Linked DNA regions of Homo sapiens. The protein of the gene in region 1 purifies or fractionates together with the protein of each later gene. This does not show direct contact. Each region holds a gene or a part of one and is shown on either strand. Other genes may lie near its edges.

Region 1 (2,585 bases):
AATGACATAAGGAAAGGAAACTGAAAACCAGACTAACTGGTTAAAATACATTTTTTTATTTATAATTTTTTTTTTTAATAGACGGAGTCTCACTCTGTCTCCCAGGCTGGAGTTGCAATGGTGCTATCTGGGCTTACTGCAAGCTCCACCTCCTGGGTTCACCCGCCATTCTCCTGCCTCTCAAAAAAATAAAAAATAGAAAATAAGAAACAAGACCGGGTACGGTGGCTCATGCCTGTAATCCCAGGACTTTGGGATGCCAAGGTGGGCAGATCACCTGAGGTTGGGAGTTCAAGACCAGCCTAATATGGAGAAACCCCGTCTCTACTACAAATACAAAAAATTAGCCGGGTGTGGTGGCACATGCCTGTAATCCCAGCAACTAGGGAGGCTGAGGCAGAGGAATCGCTTGAACCCGGGAGGCGGAGGTTGTGGTGAGCTGAGATCACATCATTGCACTCTAGGCTGGGCAACAAGAGTGACACTCCATCTCAAAATAAATAAATAAATAAATAAGAAAATAAGAAACAAAAAACAGGATGGCGAAAGTGGCCGACATCTGTTGGCCATGGTGGTTTCAAACTTCTGACCTCAAGTGACCTATGTGCCTTGGTCTTCCAACGTGCTGGGATTACAGGCCTGAGCCACCACACCTGGCCCCATCCTCTTAACATAAACACTTGAATGTCAATTAAGGCTTGAACTCAATGTTAAGTCAACACAAACTCAAGTCAATGCTGAATTGACTCCAATGTCAATTAATGCTTGATGGTTTGCTATACTCACTGCATTGGGAACAGTTATCTCAAAAATGAATTTTCTCATGTTCTGCAAGGAGTGACCTCGGACTGAAGACCTTGCCACACTGATGACATTTGCAAGATTTCTGTCCAGTATGGATTCTCTGATGTCCAACGAGGTGTGAATGTGAAGTAAAGGCTTTGCCACAATCATCACACTTGTGAGGTTTCTCTCCTGTATGAATTCTCCTGTTTTGCATAGGATGAAGCTTGACTGAAGACCTTGCCTCAATCATGACATTTGTAAGGTTTCTCTCCAGTATGAGGTTGCCAATGAACTGCAATGTATGAACAATGTCTGAAAAACATGCCACATTTATTACACTCAGAAGATTTCTCTTCATCATGGATTCTCCAATGATTTGCAATTGTTGTAGTGTTACTGAAGACTTTGTGACAATCATTATATTAATCAAATTTCCCTATACCATGAATTGCCTGATGGTGAATAAGTGTTGACCGGTCACTAAAGGCTTTGCCACACTCATTACACTTGTAAGGTTTCTCTCCAGTATGAATTATCCTATGTCTTTTAAGGTGTGATTTGCGACTGAAAACTTTGTCACATGCTTCACATTTGTAAGGTTTCTCTCCAGTATGAATTCTATGATGACGTGAAAGGTGTGATTGTTCATTAAAAGCCTTTCCACATTCATTACACTTGTAAGGTTTCTCTGCAGTGTGAATTCTAATATGTCTTGCCAGGTATGAATTACGCACGAAAGCCTTGTCACAAACCGTACATTTGTAAGATTTCTCTCCAGTATGAAGTCTACGATGGTATACAAGGGATGACCAGTGACGGAAGGTATTGCCACAGTCGTTACACTTGTAAGGTTTCTCACCACTATGAAGTCTACGATGGCATAGAAGGGTTGCCTTCTGACTGAACGTCTTGCTGCACTCACTACACTTGTAAGGTTTCTCACCACTATGAATTCTACGATGGCATACAAGGGATGACCTGTTACTGAAGGTCTTGCTGCACTCATTACACTTGTAAGGTTTCATTCCACTGTGAATTCTAGTATGTTTTGCCACATAGGAACGACACACGAAAGCCTTGTCACAAACCTTACATTTGTAAGATTTCTCTCCACCATGAAGTCTACGATGCCATACAAGTGATGACTTGTAACTGAAGGTCTTCCCACACTCATTACACTTGTAAGTTTTTTCTCCAGTGTGAATTCTTGTATGTCGTGCCAGCTGTGAATTCCACGTGAAAGCTGTGTCACAAACCTGACATCTGTATGGTTTCTCTCCAGTATGAATTCTCTTATGTGACTCAAGAGCTGATTTCTGACCAAAAACTTTGTCACATGCTTCACATTTGTAAGGTTTCTCTCCAGTATGAAGTCTACGATGACGTGAAAGATGTGATTGTTGATTAAAAGCTTTCCCACATTCATTACACTTGTAAGGTTTCTTTGCAGTGTGAATTCTAGTATGTACAGCCAGGACTGAATTACGCATGAAAACCTTGTTACAAACCGTACATTTGTAAGATTTCTCTAGAGTGTGAAGTCTACGATGGTATACAAGGGATGCCCGGTGACGGAAGGTATTGCCACACTGATTACACTTGTAAGGTTTTTCACCACTATGAAGTCTACGATGGCATAGAAGGGATGACCTGCGGCTGAAGGTCTTGCGACACTCATTACACTTGTAAGTTTTCTCTCCAGTGTGAATTCTTCTATGTCGTGCCAGCTGTGAATTACACGTGAAAGCTGTATCACAAACCTTACATTTGTATGGTTTCTCTCCAGTATGAATTCTCTT
Region 2 (2,373 bases), on another chromosome or scaffold:
GGGAGGCTGAGGCAGAAGAATTGCTTGAACCCAGGAGGCTGAGGTTGCAGTGAGCTGAGATTGTGCCACTGCACTCCAGCCTGGGCAACAGAAAGACTCTGTCTCAAACAAACAAACAAAAAAGAACCTGGGGGGCCCAGGTTTGTATCCATTTCTGTCCAACTCTGAAGTTCCCACTCTTTGTCCTACAGCTGACAGCTTCCCCAAGAGAGTAAATGGAACAAACCAACACTTAAAAATAGCTCTCTCCCCTCATTGCAAAATCCACTCATGTCTTAATAGACATGAGAAAATTTGGAAGACAGAGAAAATATGAAGAAATTTAAAAGTACCCACAGTCATACTATCCCAAAATAACCATGGTTAATATTCTGATGTGTGTTATTTCAGCTTTTTTTTTTCTTTTTGAGACGGAGTCTTGCTGTCTCCAGGCTGGAGTACAGTGGCGCCATCTCAGCTCACTGCAACCTCCAGCTCCCAGGTTCAAGCAATTCTCCTGCCTCAGCCTCCAGAGTAGCTGGGATTACAGGCGCGTGCCACCACTCTCAGCTAATTTTTTATATTTTTAGTAGAGACGGGGTTTCACTCTGTTGGCCAGGATGGTCTCGATCTCCTGACCTCGTGATCCGTCCGTGTCGGCCTCCCAAAGTGCTGGGATTACAGGCGTGAGCCACCACACCTGGCTTATTCCAGCTTTTTAAAATGTTATTTATTTATTTATTTATTTTTCTGAAAACACTATGGTGATGGATCCAGCTTATTTTAAAAAGCTTTGTTTCCAAAAACAAAAGCTGGCCTCACCGTGTCCACACTGGTTTTTGCTTGCTTCTGTTGTGAACTGTCTCCTACCTGTGTCAGTAAATAATTTTCCACGAGATTTTACAACTGCCTACTGGTCCATGATACGTGTCATCATTGACTTAGCTGGCTCCCTGTTCCTGGGTGTTACGGCTGTTTTTGTTTTCATTGTTATAAATAGGGCAGCGAAGAGTATTTTTCTGCACATCTCTATTTCCCCTGGAAAATTCTATAAGTAGTACCCCTGGGTCACAGGGTCACAGTTAGCAGGTACAGCCAGAAAGCCTTCTTGAGGGATGTGCCCCCTACCAGCAGAGCATGAGGGGGGCACATGGATTGAAGTTTGTCATGTAGCAATATCAACCTGGTCCCATTGAATGGCTAAAACTCTCTGCAGCCAGTCCCAGTTGGCCCCCAGGGATGGGGCTGCCCAGCCCCAGTAACTGTGAGCAGGACTCTGTGTGCCCATGCAAGCTGGGAGTACAGCAGGCACCCTTTGCCTGCTGGCGTGGCACCCCCACCAGCCCCCCTGCTCAGCAACCACCCTGGCTTGTGACCCTTCATACTACTGGAGTTTCCAAGAATGGCATTTGTCCCAGAGGGTGGTTGTCACCAAGCACTGTGAATGAACAACAGAAATTGCTTGGGTCGTGAGTATGGGCCATTGGACACAGCCTTTGAGTGGGCAGGCAGGCATCCCCAGTCCAGTGCCAGCAGGGCAGCCAGGAGCCCCAGTTCAGTGGCTGGTGCCAGGCCTGTGGGCCAGCTCTGGGCTGACACAGCTGGTCTACTGTCATATCTCTAATTTGATCCCATCCCTCATCCCACGCTATCTGTGGCCTGGTGTCATCCTATGAGCGAATGGAGGACCAGCATCCCTGACCCTGGGATACTGGCAGTGATGGGGACAGGTGAATGACCCATGGGACTTTGAACTTTCCCTTGTAGGCAGTGGGTGGTGCCTTGCTGGGTGCCATGCATAGCAGGAATGGCCAAGAAGTCTAGGGAGGACTTGACCCTGGCCACACTACATAGCCTTTGGCCAGTCATTTTGTGGTTTCCATTTTCCTGTCTATGAAATGAGCCACTGAGGACTTTGGGGCCCGTGAGACAGATGCTGAGGATCTTGCTGGCCAAGCTGTAGGGCTGGGACCCTCAAGGGGTCTGTGAAAGGGCTGGGGCCACTGGGCTGGGGGTCGATCAGCTGGAGTGATGGAGGGAGTTGGGCTTTCTGGGCTCTCTGGGGAAGCAGGTGCTGGGGCGCATGGGATCATAGGTGGCACAACTGGGTGGGCCTGCGGGAAGCAGGAAGTGAAGGTGCCTCCCTCCCTCACCTCTCCTGCTGTAGGTTGGCTTCCTGAAGATCCTGCACAGGTATGAGATTACCTTCACTCTGCCCCCAGTGCACAGGCTGAGCAAGGATGTCCGCGAGGCACCTGTCCCCAGCCTGCACCTCAAGCTCCTCAGCGTGGTGCCCGTCCCTGAAGGTGCGTCCCCTCCTCCAGCAGGGCCTGGATGGGTGTGGGAGTGAGAACATGGGGTGCTCCCTTACTTCCAACTAGGGTGGATGGGCAG

The links. Proteins that work in one complex are often made in the same cells at the same time.
Region 2: the proteins of ZNF808 (region 1) and ADISSP fractionate together in Homo sapiens (co-fractionation; one large-scale study listed by BioGRID). This does not show direct contact.

Annotation. Positions count from the first base shown.
Region 1 is NC_000019.10:52,554,252-52,556,836, reverse strand, and holds the end of ZNF808 (zinc finger protein 808), read right to left. Parts: coding exon 1,209-2,585; 3' UTR 501-1,208; downstream 1-500.
Region 2 is NC_000020.11:3,755,381-3,757,753, reverse strand, and holds part of ADISSP (adipose-secreted signaling protein), read left to right. Parts: intron 1-2,146; coding exon 2,147-2,285; intron 2,286-2,373. UniProt on the Homo sapiens protein: Adipocyte-secreted protein (adipokine) that acts as a key regulator for white adipose tissue (WAT) thermogenesis and glucose homeostasis at least in part through activation of protein kinase A (PKA).